Linked DNA regions of Homo sapiens: region 2 is linked to region 1. Evidence: fine-mapped expression QTL. Tissue or cell type: tibial artery. Region 1 holds a variant in brackets; the other region holds the start of a gene. All regions are shown on one strand. Distances are from middle to middle.

Evidence for each region. PIP is the estimated chance that this variant, and not a neighbour inherited with it, causes the effect.
Region 2: GYG1 starts here. The variant in region 1 is fine-mapped to the expression of GYG1 in tibial artery (GTEx, PIP 0.92).

The regions. Positions count from the first base shown.
Region 1 is chr3:149,148,827-149,156,826 of GRCh38, forward strand. It overlaps HPS3 (HPS3 biogenesis of lysosomal organelles complex 2 subunit 1), which reads left to right. Exons shown (of 17, transcript NM_032383.5): 6 at 1,773-1,854; 7 at 4,668-4,822; 8 at 6,281-6,389. Among named protein-coding and RNA genes, the nearest start is that of HPS3, 23 kb to the left of the region's middle. The variant G/A (reference allele first, on the strand shown) is at 3,565.
Region 2 is chr3:148,987,181-148,995,357 of GRCh38, forward strand. It overlaps GYG1 (glycogenin 1), which reads left to right and starts at 4,360. Exons shown (of 8, transcript NM_004130.4): 1 at 4,360-4,467; 2 at 6,962-7,097. The coding sequence starts at 4,461. It also overlaps the pseudogene UBQLN4P1. RefSeq lists silencers at 3,999-5,048, 5,082-5,376.

The DNA.
Region 1 (8,000 bases):
GACATCTTTCAATGCCAGCACATTTCAGTTTATTCTTTCTCTAGTATACATTTCTGCTTAGGATTCCAACAGTAGCCAATAGACTGGATTCCTACAGGTGGAGGTAAGTCAGGGAACCCTGCCTTTTTTTTTTTTTTTTTTTTTTGAGACAGAATCTCACTCTGTCACCCAGGCTGGAGTGCAGTGGCACGATCTTGGCTCACTGCAAGCTCCGCCTCCCGGGTTCATGCCATTCTCCTGCCTCAGCCTCCCGAGTAGCTAAGACTACAGGCGCCCACCACCACGCCCAGCTAATTTTTTTTTTTTTTTTGTATTTTTAGTAGAGACGGGGTTTCACTGTGTTAGCCAGGGTGGTCTCGATCTCCTGACCTCATGATCCGCCTGTCTCGGCCTCCCAAAATGCTGGGATTACAGGCTTGAGCCACCACGCCTGGCCGAAACCCTGCCTTTTTATCTCTAAAATCTAAAGGCTATTTGTTTTTGCGGTCATAGCTATTCTCATCTGTCCTTCCGGTCCCACTGCAGGTGCTTTTTTGCTTCCCTCTCTCTCAGTTTACTTCCCAAGGTTGCTAACTCTACTCCAGATTTGTAAGTGGTAGTGCTACTGTCCTAGTTATTGTCAGGACTCCAGAGGTCATTTCCTAGAACGTTGCAGAGATAGACAGAGATGGCTGAGGCTGAAGTGGAAGCACCAGCAGATGGAGAGAGGCCTGACTACCTCTTAAATTGTGCTAAGCCTCCTAACTGAAAATATCAGAATGCCTTTTTTTATGAGGACATTTTTTAAATTTAATATTACTGTTAGGTTTGCTTTAGTCTTTTTTTTTATTTTAAAGAGTTCGTTTTTACTTCTCCCACTTTCTAGTTTTTTTAAAAAGGGAGGGAGAAGGAAGGAATAAAAATATCAATTTCTGTCCCGTCACATAATGGAACAGAAATATACATCATTGTGTAGCAATTTCTAAGTTAATTAACTGTTTTTAATGTCAATATTCGAGGGTTGACCTAGATAACAACCACAGATGACAACCAGGCATCTATTGTGCACTTACTGTGGAGTCCCTAGGTCCTTTTTGTATGCAGAAGCAGCCTGGAGTTGTGGAAAGAGGTAGAGGAGTGTGAGGGGTCAGGAGACCTGGGATCTAATTGGCTCTACTCTCCAGAGAGGCGGTGGACCAGTCATGAACCTTTCATGCCCCAATCTTTAAAACAAGCTGCTGGACTAGGTAATTCTGAAGATGCCTTCAGATGGTCTCTCATTTTCAATTCGACCATTGGATTTGAGTTTGCATAGTCTGTGTTGTCCAGCATAATCCAGGATGGATTTCATCATGAGGTGGTTGAGGAAGAACAACAGTTAAGAAATGGATTTTACTCTTGGTTTTGATAGACACCCATCTGTACCTTGGGCAGGTACTGGGGGCATCATTTGTCTGTAAAATGAAGATACTGACCCAGATCCATGGTTCCTAACTAGGGATGCACATCAGAGTCACATATGGAGTTTTGTAGAAATGTACACGTCCAGATTCAGCCCCTAGAGATTGCGATTCACTAGGGGTGTTATGGGGACCAGTTGTATATTTTTAAAAACACACCACAGGGATTCTGAGGCATTCCTCTTATTGAGAAGAAGTTTAACTTGGCAATATTTGACAAATACTTGACTGTCACCCCTGCCCATTGCCCTGTTTGCCTGTGAAACCCTCCCTGCTGTGGGTATGTTGGTTCTTGGCCTCACTTTGCTCAGCAGCCTGTGTCTTCCTCCTCAGTAACAACCTGCAGTGTTTCACTGTGCGGTGCAGTGCGGCGGCAGCTCGTGAGGAGGACCCGTACATGGACACCACCCTGAAGGTAAGAACTGGCTTATGAAGATAGTGAAACCTTAAGATCACAAGGGAGCACATGAATACTCGTAGATTTGCTCTCAGACCTAAGCTAGGCAAGAACAAAAGAGCTTAAGGTTGTCTAATGTATTGAATTAGAACTTTTGGATGTAAAATAGTGAGGATTTTGTGATTCATGGCTTAGTTGACAGTTTTTAAGATTGCTTTGCAAACATTTCACTCCGAATTGATTTAGTGCATAGTTTTTAAAGTTTGGTAAAGAATATAAAAAGTGTGAACTGAGAGCAGTTCACAACTACTGTATGCTACAATTTTATTTTTTATTTTTTTGATTTTAACTTTTAATTTTTTCGAGGCAGGGTCTTGCTCTGTCACCCAGGCTGGAGGGCAGTGGCAAAGTCATAGATCACTGCAGCCTCGAACTCCTGGACTCAAGTGATCCTGCCACCTCAGCCCCTCAAGTAGCTGGGACTACAGGTGTGCACCACCATGCCCTGCTGATTCTTTTTGTATTATTATTATTATTATTATTTTTTTTTCTGCAGAGACAGGTTTTGCCGTGTCGCCCAGGCTGGTCTTGAACTTCTGGGCCCAAGCGATCTGCCTGCCTCAGCCTCCCAAAATGGTGGGATTACAGGCATGAACCACCATGCCTGGCCCAATTGTATTTTACTAAATGGAAATACTGGTGGCAGTTTTACAGAGCTGTTAACAAAACAGTCCAGAAATCAATATACTTAAGAGCACAAAATTGAATACGATGCATTAAAATGATTTATTTATACTATTATCAGCTATGCCTGTAATTCTGTATTTTATAAGCCTTTGATAACCTTCTATACTTAATCGAAGAGTTAATGGTTATGGTAGATCAATAATCTCATTTTTAGTGAGAAGTAAAGTGCTTGGTTTCTAAAAAAAAAAAAAAAAAAAAAAAAAAAAAGCCTCTTGACCACAGAATAAATGTAGGCATTATTATGTTGAGATTCGGTGTTTTCTGACTTTGAATTTCTGTTCTCAGAAATACACTGATCATTTACATTATATTGATCTATGTTATTTTACTTCTGAAGTATAAGCTATTTGAATTGGATATTTGTTAGGAATATACATGCTGCAAGAAGCTCCCAAATTATCATGCTCTGTGTTTCAAAAATTGGTTTATATCTGTCTGGAAACTGGAATACCTTTTTCCAGAAGGATAAGCCTTCAGTAATGGTGGTTATCTTAACAAGCCAGCCCCGACTTAGTGCCTAATGTGTCTGAGATACTCTTTCACGGTCACTGTCACCCAAACTGTGTCATATGATAGTGTTTTATGGCAAGCATGGTCTCTGAGTTCCTAGTGACCCTTTTTAATGGCCTGCCTGTGGTTTTCTGTTGCTGACCAGGCTTACTGCCTGCTGTCAGCCTCTTGGGAAACCAGAACCACAGATTTCCTGTGCCTTTGTTTGTATAAGATACACACATGGCCTTTTTGAGAGATTACTTTAAAATCAGGATTATTTCCTTTGTAAAAATAGAAAAGTAACAGATTAAAAAAATAAAACTTCCATTCTTTGTCCTCTTCTTTCCCCTCCTTGCGTTTTCAAACCTCAGAAAGACATAGGCTTATATAGGGGTGATGGTGTAATTTAAAGTACCTAATAGATTGAAGTAGGATCAATGTACCTTTGGAAAAAAAATAATTCCATGTATTTTCAGAGTCTTATAAAAG[G/A]CAGAATGAAGGAACAAGGAAGAGACAAAGGGGAGGGATAAGGAGAGGTGGGCATCTGGTGGAGGTATGCTGCCCTTGAGGCCAGTGGAGGTAGGAGGGGGAAGGCATAATCACACCTCACGGTTCCTCCTTTCCTGGGACTCCACCAGTTCTGAAGCCCTAGGTGCCAGTTAAACAAGCACACGTTTAGCCCACCTGCTGACTCAGGCTTTGGAGCTGTGATGTCTGAAAAAAGTTTCACAACCTCAAGAGTCTGGTTGAAAGTGCTTGTGGTCTGTCTCCTTTTCCTCTGAGATTCTGACTCCTCAGCACTAACCAAGCCACCTTAACTATTTTTACATGGAGGTAACAATGAAGATGACCTCAGAATCAAAACAGCATGCATGGACAAGAAGGCAGGGTCCTGGCAGCATCATTTTGTGAGCTCCCAGAATAGAGCTCTTCCATTAGTTTTCTTATTCATTCTACTTGAATTAATGGTCCTTTACAAGAGCAAAAGGCTGGCTCCTCTAGTTTACCTGACATGTCCCAGCCTGTCCGCCATTCCAGGCACTATTCGTACCTAACAGACTAACAGTCAGGGGCCATCGGAACATACAAGCATTTCTTTCACACACACATCCGCAAAGAAACCATTTTATGTACTCTACAAGCAGTAGAATGTCCTTTCATAGTGTCTGGTTTTTCCTAAAAACCCCATTTGGGCGTACCCCCAACCATCCTGCTAGTTGTGGGGGTTTCCCTGGGTGGCAGAGTACCAGCTTCATCTCCTGGAGGTATCTGTGGAGCCACTCTGTGGGGCACACACACAAGTTCCTGCAGCTGTGGGACCCTCTTTCCGTATTTATTCAATCAATCAATAACTGAGTTTGTTGGCTGAGTAGCTCTATGGAATACACTATTGGTTACATAGGTTTAGATAACCTCTTCTGTTAAGAATAGGAATCTGGGTTGGTCTTTTGTTTGTTTGTTTGTTTTTTGGTGGTGGTGGGTATGGGATGGTGGCAGCAGAAGAGATTTGATCAAATAAACTGACTGATTTTTGAAGATTGAAGTGCATGTACCTTTATTTCTTGCTTAAATATGTGATTTTCCTTTACTAGGCTTGCCCACCTGTCAGTATGGATGTCTGTGCTTTAAGAATACAGCTTTTCATAGGCTTGAAAGCCATCTGTCACTTTAAAAACCACATCATACTTTTGACTAAAGCAGAACCTGAAGCCATTCCAGAGAGAAGACAGTCACCCAAGAGGCTTCTGTAAGCATCCCCTTGCCCCAGGCATTCCTGCCAGTTTCTGGAATGAGTTGTAACTGGTATATTTTGTGTTTATCTTTTTTCAAATCATAACTTGGAATGATCAAATGGCTTTTTTATGGTGGTCTTTTTCCAGAGAAAGAAAAGAAGGTTCTAACAATCTCTGTAATACACTTTATAACTGACCTGGAAACTTTTAGGAGAAAATGGATTATAAAATAGTTTCAGTAAAAATCAAAGGTGTTTTAGATTAGTTAAAGGCCATGCTTTTCTGTGTAATTAATGAGAAAGACTGAGCCTATAATGCTAATTGAAACTACAGGACTTTTTACTGTCTTTCTTCTTTGACCCTTTCAGTTGTTACATTTTTATCTAAAATTATTTTCTGATATTATGAAAGAAATTAATAATGTATGTCTTACCTTAAAGCACATTTATGATCTATAGATATGTGCTCATGTATCTGAAAATAAAGTTGTATTTTGATAACATTCATCTCTTGTTATTTATTAGGTTTCTGCTTTCCCATTGTTTAGAATAGAATGCTTAATTCCAGACTAGTTATGCTTCTATTTGATGTTTTCCTACTTAGTGGTAGAGAATGCAATCTAATTTCTCTAAGGAAAATTTAATCAAGAAAGAAATCTCTTCAGGGAGTGAAGCATATAGTGTATTTCATATCAAACATGGGTTATTTTTAACATAGATTTTTACTTTTTCAAATTGTTAGTGGCTGTGCTTTGTTGCATCAACAGGAATCAGAGGTTGACTTTGGTAACTGATCACTTTGAGTGTACACAGAGTGGTCTGGGGCTGACTGATCCTAAAAGCTTTCTGGGGAGAGGAAAAGCAGTTTGTAGTCTTGCACATTTGACATTCTAATAGTATAATTTTTTAAATGATGTTTTAAAAATTCTAATTCATTTGAAAATTCATTTGATAAACAATTATAAAAGATTGTACACTAAAGAAAATGTATCACATAGTGAAAGCAAGAGATAAGATAGTGCTTTAAGCAGACTTAACAGTTTTATGTGTCTTCATCATATTCTCAGCAGCCATGATGTTGCTTCTGCTTAGATTTGTGGCTCAGGGCATGCTAGACTCATGAAAGTCAAATGCAGAAAAGAGCCTGGGTATAGGGACTTCCGCAGTCAAGGATCTTTTCCTCTTGATGGGACTTGCCTGTTCTTTGAACTTACTGCTCATTTGAGAATACTTGCAGAGTGAATTGGAAGCAGTTGGTTTATCATTACATGAAAATTACAGAATATTAAATGCAGTTAGCCTATGTAGTATTGTGAACTAATATTCCATAGAAATAGAGTGTACAGTTAATCACTGAGGAAAATAGTAAATGAAAATGATTTTATAGTTATTTTATATCCAATATTTACCATTTACAACTACCATTTATTAATAATGTCATTTTAAAATTCTTGTCCTTTGTTTTGCTTTTAGTTCGAGAAAAGATACCAGTGTTAAAATCAAAATACCTCCTGTAGCTGAGGCTGGGTGGAATTTGTATATTGTGAATACGATCTCACCAGTGCAGCTGTACAAAGAGATGGTACTCTTTTCAAACTTCTGATTCTTGTTTGTAGATATTTAGAGTGAAATTAATGATCAGAAATTGATTCTAATTATCATACATTCAGGATGCCACAGCCATTCAGCTTCCTGGCTCTGTCTGACAGTGGAATGTATATCTCTCTCTGCCTCCTCATTGTTACAGCTTCTGACATCCGAGGAACCAGTAGAAATTCCCTTCACTAGCATAAGACTCCCTTATTCATACCCACTCTCCTAAGAAGATCGATTGGCCAATCTGAACATAGTCTTTGACCTTAATTTGAACTCTAGCAAAGATAGCTAAGAAATGGAGCAAATAAATAAATAAATAAATAAATCTAGGATTATGTATCCCTGTCCCACTCTTCTTATTTAGAAATGTTAGCACATTGTCCCAGGGCACCACAGCTACTGCAGCATTGTCCTGGGGGGAGGGACCCAGAGGGAGCATCCTTACTGATCTAAGAGTGACAGCTTCCTACTCATCCCTGGCAATTATTTTAACTCTTTATTTTGAAACAATTTCAAACTTACAGAAAAGTTGCAAGAATAAGTATATTCTTCCCAACCCTTTGGGAGGCTGAGGCAGGTGAGTTGCTTGAGGCCAGGAGTTCGAGACTAGCCTGGGTAACATAGTGAGATCCCATCTGTACAAAAAATTAAAAAATTAGCCAGTTGTGGTGGCACATACCTGTAGTCCTAGCTACTTTGGAAGCTAAGATGGGAAGATCACTTGAGCCCAGGAGTTCAAGGCCACAATGAGCTATGGTCGTACCACTGCACTCCAGCTTGGGTGACACAGCAAGACCCTGACTCTTTTGACTCTTTTTTAAAAAAGAAGAATATTCTATATATTCCCATTCCCCACACAGATTTCTCCACAGTCAACATTTTACCCTATTTGCTTCTCTCTCTCTTTTATGCACTCTGTGCTTTCTGTGCACACAGATATACATACACTGTTTTCTGATTCTTCTTCGGGAGGTAAACTGCATACATCAGTCTTTTGCCCCTAAGTACTTCAGCGTATATTTTCTAAGAATAAGGATACTCTCTTGCATACCAGAATACAGTAGTATGCTTTAATAAATTTAACATTGACACAGTGCTTTATCTGGTTTATGGTTCATAGTCTAATTTTGTCAACTGACCCAATGGCTTGATAGCATTTCCCCTTCTCCAGTTCAAGACCCAGTCTAGGATCAGGTAGTGTGTTTAACTATGATGTCTCTTTAGCCTCCTTTGAAGCTGGAATATTTCTATAGCCTTTCATTATGTTTTATGACATGAGCATTTTTGAAAAATATAATTTTCCCCTCTACTTTTTTTTTGAGAGTATTCCTTATTTAGGGTTTGCTTTTTTTTTTTTAATGGTTAGATTCAGATTATGCATTTTCAGCCAGAATATTGCATAGGTGATTTTTGTGTTAAGGGTATCACATCTGGAGGCACATGCTGTTCATCTACCCCTCTTTGGTGATGTTAATTTTTGGTCATCAGGTCAAGGTGTTGCCTGATTTGTCCCTGCCAATAATTTAATGCCAATTATTATATTAGCTGTGCCCTGTCTTTTCAGTCTTGCTTAATTGAAAGTCTTCGTTTAGGTGAT
Region 2 (8,177 bases), 160 kb before region 1:
AAAGCCAGAGAGTATGGACGCAGTAGCACTGGGGGATCCCTCCCCAGTCCCTGGAGAGGGCCCCCCACCACTGCTCCTCCGGCTTCCACTGCCAGCATCCGAAGAGGCACTGTCAGAGGTGGAGGGCTGGGTAGGGGTGGTGGGTGAAGCAGGCGTGGTGGAGGGTGCTGAGGCAGGGTCAGGTGTGGAGGGGGAAGAAGCAGTGGCAGCAGCTGGATCTTGAGCCTTCTGAGGGGTCTTGATGACCAGATGGACAGTGAGCCCGTCCTTGATTCCGTGCTGGTTCAGTGTGTCCCCATCCTTGAGGATCTTGCCTGACAAGATCAGGACCAGCTGATCCTGCTGAGCCTTAAACCTCCGGGAGATTTCCTCTTTGAACTCCTTGACCGAGGCTCGATCGCAGATCACAATTTCCTCCTTGTCCTTGGGGGTCTTGACGGTGACCCGAATGGGGGGCCTCGTCTCGGCCCCGCTCGGCTCCGCCATGCCGCCGCCGCCACCCGGCCGCCCGCCAGCCCGCCCGGCTCCTCCTCCTCCCCGCTCGCCCGGCCGGCCCGGCTCGGCTTCTGCCATTTTTTTTCTTTTTTTTGAGACAAAGTCTCACCCTGTCACCCAGGCTGGAGAGCAGTGGCGCAATCTTGCCTCACTGCAACCCCTCCCGTGTTCAAGCGATTCTCCTGCTTCAGCCTCCTGAGTAACTGGGATTATAGGTGTGTGCCACTATGCCCGGCTAATTTTTGTATTTTTAGTAGAGATGGTGTTTCGCCATGTTAGCCAGGCTGGTCTTGAACTCCTGACCTCAGGTGATCTGCCTGCCTCAGCCTCCCAAAGTGCTGCAATAGAGACGTGAGCCACTGCACCTGGCCAAGAAATGAAATATTGATACGTTTCACAACATGGAAGAACTTTGAAAACATTATGCTAAATGAAAGAAACCAGTTACACAAGACAACATATAGGTAAATCTCAATAGACAAATGTTTAGACAGAAAGTAGATTAGTAGTTGCCCAGGACTGAGGGAAAGAAGAAGAGAGTAAGGAGTGACTGCTAATGGGTACAGATTTCTTTTGGGTTGATGAAATTGTTCTAAACTTAGATTGTGGTAATAGTTGTACAACTCTGTGAATACACTAAAAACCATTTAGGTATACACTTTAATTCAGCACAAGTGGCTGAATTTTACACAATGTGAGTTATGTAACAATAAGGATTAAAAAAAAAAGCTATGTAACCAGCCATCAGGCTACTGCAACTTTTGGAGTTTGGGACTCTAGCTTTCAAGTGAAGAACGGACTACTTTGGGCCTCCAAGGATATTATTTCTTGAAACCAAACTTTTGCTTGATATTGTGATTACCGACAACAATCCCAGGTACAGATTGTGTATGTTATCAATTAAGGGCAAAATTTTAAGTTAGTTGACTAGTTAGTTCCTGTGTCTGGCCAGATGTGGTATATGTATTTCACAAACTTTCCGTGGGAACCATTTGATTCTCAGGCGAGTAGGTTGCCCTCTGCTCCGGAATATATTTCCAGGTCAGTTGCCCCCACCATCAATTAGTGTGTGTGCTCAAAAGAATGCAAACTGATTTCAGCATTATCTTAAACAAAACTTAATTAGGAAGGTAAGTATCCTGCCAAAAAAATTACATAATGCATTACAAAGCCAATTTAAAATGAATTTTGGACCATTCCGAATATATGAATTCAGCATAGGTTTAAATGGTTAATAGTCATGCCTACTGATGTAGGGTATAACTTATCTTTTTTAACTTAAATCTTTCTTTTAGGATTCTGTAATTTTACTAGTTCAAGTTTCACAAGAAAAAAAATAACAAGCTAAAATCTGAAACATTTGCCTCACTATACCATGTTTATCCACTACCTCTAAGGCCTTACAATCCAAAATGTTTGAACACCTCACTATTCAAAGTGTGGGTCCATAGCCTGGGGATCACCTGGGAGACCCACCCCCAAACTACTGAGTCAGAATCCGCATTTTAATAAGATCCTTGGGCAATCTGTGTGCGCATTAAAGTTTGAGAGGTCTTGCTCTCACACCAGACTGAAGCTCACTGCAGGGCAGCCTCAGGAAAAGTAGGCAGTGGGGTCATTATGATCTATATTAAGACAATGAAGAAGAACAGATTGTAGCAACCTCAAAATGTCCCTATTTGATTCAAAGTGGTAAAAGCTGTAAACTTTCTATTTGTGTAAATATACATGAAGCTCAGGAAGGGAAGCTGTGGTAACCGTTCCTTTTACTTAAACGTCCTGGGAGTTGCAGCAGAGAGGAGCTTGTTCTAAGGGAAGCTTTTCTGTTTTTCCCAGTTGTCCCCAGTTCTACCTCCTGGCTTTGCCCTTTCAGCCCCATCACCACATCCCTGGCTAAGTCCAGCCTGAGATAGTAGGCTGCAAGAAGTAGATGGTTAAGGGTCAGCTGATGGCAGGAGGGTTCTGGGTGAAAGATGGAAATCTCACTCTTCCAAGTTCACCTCTCAGTCTGCAAAAGAGCAATCAGACTGAGAAGTACCTCTCTTTGTTTTCCCTCTCCCCACTTAAGATACAAAAGTGTAGCCTTTGTGTTCCTTAAAGAGCTCCAACTCTTCTATGTCTATATCTTTTGAATAAGTGGAAACCCATCTATTGCCCTTTCCACTTTTCTGTTTCCTACAACGGAAGCACATAATGCCAAGTAACTGGGAGGGCCTCCCATGTGATCAGCGGTCTCTAGGCCATGGTCAAGACTAGGAAGGACTCAAGAGAGGCTCCTGGAAGGTGATATTTAAAATACTGATTTTAAGGTTCTACCCTTAAGATTCTTTTTGTTTTGTAACCTGTTTTTCTTCAAATAATATATTTTGAACAGCTTTTTATATTAAAAATATATAATGATTATGCCTACAGAGTATTTCATTACCTCAAGAGTATATGACGCGACTTCAAAAAGTCCATAGAATATACATATTATAAAAAAAAAATGCATGGATTTCAAAATTATTTTGCACCAAAATAAACCTACCCTTAAGATTCTGATTCAGGAGGTCTGGGCTTAGGCCCAAAAATCTACGCTTTAACCAGTGCCCCCAAGTGATTCTGATGTAGGAGATCCACACCCACACACGAGGAAACAGTGATATAACTGGTTTGAGGACAGCAGTACCACCTTTGCAAATAAATCACTTATTCTTAAGCATCTGTTTTGCTTTTTGAACTGATGTCAACTTCCTGATTGGTTTCCAAATGGCTTTGCAGTACTCATTCAACATTTACCGAGCAATTTCAGTTTTCAGTTTGCAGAGAACTGAACTACCCGAGGCTTGTTCTGTGTTTGGACTGGGGATGGGGAGCAGAGAAGGATGTGATCACATTAAAGCTATTTCTCAACTTCCTAGAAAAATGACAAATTGACCATTTCAAGATTTGTGAAACAGGTTAGCATTGGCTAACCACAGTTACAATAATTTACTAACCTTTTTGGAGCCCCTGTGTACAAGAGGCACCAAGACTTTCTGGGTGGGAAGGTTGATTCTGTAACCAAACTGCCAGGGTTTAAATCCTACTTTCTCCATTTATATTATATGACTATAGAAAAGTTAGCACTTTGGGAGGCTAAGGCTGGCAGATCACTTGAGGCCAGGAGTTCCAGACCAGGCTGGCCAACATGGTGAAACTCTGTCTCTACTAAAAATACAAGAAAAAAAAGAAAAGAAAAGTTAATTTAACTTTTCTGAGCTCAGTTTCCTCCTCGTCTGTAAAATGAATATGTAACACCTCACTGAGTTCGTACAAGGATTAAATGAAGCACTTAAATGCCTAATTGATGCAGATGGCTCCAAGAATTTAACATTTACGAAATATTCACTATATTTTTTAGGTTAAGGGTACAAAACCATTGTGAGTACACTAAGGAATGATTATAGAGGCTGATCGAAATTCTGCAAAAAAAGCGTAAATTTTACGTTTCATTCAAGCAGTTCAGACTCACGATTTTAACTAGAGTAATCTGGGGTTTGTTTGCTTGTTTTTTAAGGTTCCCTAACCCTTGGCTTCTTGGGGAGTTTGATGCCGCACTCAGCCCCAAAGTCCCCCTTAACTCCCAGGTTTAGCGGCGACAGGGGGCGCGCGGTTGACAAGGGCAGGCGCCCCGGGGAAGTAGGAGCAGGGGCGCCGGTGAGCCGCAGCCGCAGCGGCAGCCTAGCCCCGAGGGAGGGAGGAGGAGCCGAGGGAGACGCGGGACCCGGAGCCCCGCGGGCCACCGCCCCTGCCGGCCGCGCAGCTGGGAGGATGCGGACGGCAGCGAGAGCGTGCGCGGCCACGTGACGGCCGCTATAAGAGCGCACGGGGCAGACGCTCGGTTCCCCGCCGTGCCTCCTCGCTGGCCGCGCTCCCTCCCGGTGCCGGCTTCTCTGAGTCACCAACCTGAGGCTGCCCCGGCCGCCTGCGCACCCGGCAGCACCATGACAGGTACCGCCGCGCAGCCCGCCGCCGCCAGCCCCGGGACCCCGGCTTCCTGCCCAGCCGCCGCCTCCCTTCTCCTCCGCCCTCAGCCCCGGAGTGTTCCCGGCAGGACGAAACCGCCGCAAAGTTGCTGGCTGGCCGCAGCCGGGCGTGTTTCTGCCTGCGTCAGCTGCCGCCCCGCCGCCCCCCAGAGTGCAGGGATGGGGCAGCCGGGCAGAGCCCGGGCCCTCGGCCGGAGCTCTCGTTCCTGCTTCCGTCTCCTCGTCCTTCCTCTTGCTCTCACGGCGAAGGGCCGGCGGGCGGAGCAGCTGCGGCGGGGCCGTGTGGGGGTGGGGAGCCGGTTCCCCTGGGGGTTCCAGGCGGGAGTCCGGGGCGCAGCGGCATCGTGGGGAGCTGCCCCGGCCTCTGGCGGCCCGGAACCCCAGGAAGCAGGGGCTCCGAGGCGGGGATACTGCGGCCTCCGCCCGGCTCCTCCGCCGCCCGCCCCGGCCCCGGCCGCCACGCTGAGCCTATTTTTAGGCCTTTGGGGCCGGGTTGCGGGAAGCCGGGAGTCGGACTAGCGTCCCCGGGCGCGAGCCCCGTCTGGTGGGAGGGCGCCGGCTTTGGCTTCACTTGTTGCGAGGCGTCCGGGCCACTCCACGAGTTAGCCCCAGCACTGGGAAGCTCCGAGTTAGCTGGTCCTTCCGTGTCATTGAGGCTAATAGCCAGGGTTATTACAGCAGTTGAACTGCCACAAAGATTGCAGGTGTAACCCAGAGTTCAGCCGTCTTTAGGAAGATTAAACTCCTACCCAGCTGTCATTGGTCTTTCTTGGTCATTTGTAATGTTGGCTAGTCTGGTGTTCTAACCTGTGTTCTATCCCTTATTTAATCTTGGAAATCATCCATATCCTTGCTTCCAGAAATCCTTGAATCCTGCTCACCTTATTACATTTTTCTCCATGATCGCCTGGAACCTGGACTTCATTTGAGTTAGATGATCATTCATTTTGCCTAGCTTAAGTATTTTTGGTACAGATTGACAGCGATGTTACCCATGTTATAATGGGCTGAAGATAATAGAAGCAAGTACAGGCGGATGTTGATGGGCCTGTCAAGGGACAGGTGCCACTGTTCAGAGCTTTCCTAGAGTGTGAGTGACTGGGAAGCTGGTGGCCCTTCGGGGGTGGGGAACTGGTCTTCCTACAACTTAGTAGTTGGCCTGCCGTGGGAGAGGGCCTAATAAAATGTGTGAAGATGGCTCTCAGGTCAGCAGCCGAGGGATGCGCTGGCCCACTAGGCAACCCACAACTTCCTCTCATGTCTCGGTGGAATTTCTACTGCTTCCAGCCTCCACCTTGGAAAACGGGCAAGGGAGAATGAGGGAAAGCCAGGTCAGAAAGAGAAGGACTTCATGACAAAATGTCCCAACTCGCTGGTTAAGCAACTGACTCCTACCAGAACTTGATCCGAAGTGTCCTATGCATTTGGATGCCCACCAACTTGCTAATGTTTCTTGGAGATGGAACATGGCCCAGAATTGTCCCAGGGAATGACTGGAGAAATCTTGAAGCCTGTGCTAGGGGTCTTGGGAGGGTGGGGACTGTTCAGCAGGAGGAAAAATCCATGTATTTACCTTCTCTTCTGGCAACTAAGTGATTATTGGAGATTGGGGTGCGTGTCTGTTGGTTTGGGCGGGGGGAGGGGGAGGGTGCAGGATGGACCTGCACCTTCTTCTCCAAAGAAAAGCAGGCAGTTGTTTAGGGCTTCTTGGGTGATCTCCAAATCTATTTATCAGTGATTGATAACTATTTAGATAGAAGCATCAAGGAGGGAAAGCCTCTTTGAGGAGCTGATACTTGAGGAGAGACTCAATGTTATTTTTCAGGGATATTGGGGCAGGGGAGCTTTTGCTCCACGTTGAGGAAACAGTTATGTATAAGATGCCTGGAGTTCGAGGCTGCAGTGAGCTATGATCACACCACTCCACTCCAGCCTGGGTGGCCGAGTGAGACCCTGTCTTAAAAAATACATACATACATACATTCCTGAGGCATGGCATAAACGTAAGCACCAGAATGAAGAATATGGACTCTGCTTTCAGACTGACTGAATTGAGTTTGACGGTTGGTTTTGTGCTTGTCTGAAAACACTGTCTACAGTACCTTGTAGAAGAAACAGCAAATGTACTACTTGATCTCTTCATTACCATCTGTTAGTTGCCTGGAGTTCAAACTCTTGGTATTAAGCTATTGTTTTGTCTGAGAATTTAGCGTGTCGGATTTAATTTCTATAGCTTAATCAACCTGTTGAAGGTTGCCATATGTGCCTGCTATGATCTTGAACCATTCTTGAAGTGGGCACTTGGGGTTTTCTCCCCAAAGGGCTACAGCTTGATTCATAGAGAAAGTTGATGTTAGAGGAACTGGTTTTGCTGAATTACTGTTTGAATGGGTTCCTGGGGAAAAGGCTTTCTCCAGATAAGATACTGTAATGAGTGTTTTTTTTTTCTTTGTATTAAGATCAGGCCTTTGTGACACTAACCACAAACGATGCCTACGCCAAAGGTGCCCTGGTCCTGGGATCATCTCTGAAACAGCACAGGACCACCAGGAGGCTGGTCGTGCTCGCCACCCCTCAGGTCTCAGACTCCATGAGGTGAGGACCTCGCTGCCACCCCAGCATCCAAGGGGCTCTGACATCCTTCTCCCTGTTGCTGACATCATTGGACATTGAGGCCATGCTCTTTTCAGGAATTGAGCACCGGGTAGAGAAAAATGAGAGATGCTGAGTGCAGGATTGCTGTATTTGAAACCTCCTCCTAGCTTTTGGGAGATATTCCAACTCAATTCTTTTCTGGAAGGTGTTATGCTGGCCCACACTTTCTGGTTCCAACTAGGAGGGGAAAGAAGGAGTCGTCTTCCTTCACTCCATCCCCTCTGGGTGATCTGAAGGAGTGTGTCAGGCATTCCCTGCTTACATACACCTTTACACAGTCACAATTCATGGACATTCCTTTCCCAGGATGCAGCAGGGGCTACATTGTTTCATGTTGCAAACTAGGGAAACTCTCAGGTGACTTAGAAAAGTAGTTATTTTATCCATTGCCAGTTGATATTTGTAAGCTAAATATCTTTATTTACAATATAATACACTAGAATCTTTACCAAAGGGCTTTCCAAACTAGGTTTTACTAGGGGAAACACACTAAAGGGTATAAACTGCTTCATGATTGGTTAGTTCACTTTGATCCGATGGAATTAAGTTTTGAAGTATTTGGGCCAGGTGTGATGGCTCATGCCTGTAATCTCAGCACTGTGGGAGGCCAAGGCAGTTGGATCACCTGAGGTCAAGAGTTCCAGACCAGCCTGGCCAACATGGCGAAACCCGTCTCTACTAAAAATACAAAACCTCATCTCTACTAAAAATACAAAAATTAGCTAGGCATGGTGGCGCGTGCCTGTGATCCCAGCTACTTGGGGTTGGGGGCTGAGGCAGGAGAATCGCTTGAACCCGGGAGGCAGAGGTTGCAGTAAGCCGAGATTGTGCCACTGCACTCCAGCCAGGGCAACAGAGTGAGACTCTGTCTTAAAAAACAACAACAACAGAAAATCGAAGTATCTGAATGAGCTACCTAGTCTCTAGTAGTAACTTAAAAAATATCCGGGCACACTAGTAACTTTGTGATGTGTTTATTTTTCTGGTCTCCTGGCCCTCTAAGAAATTGAAAATGCCCTT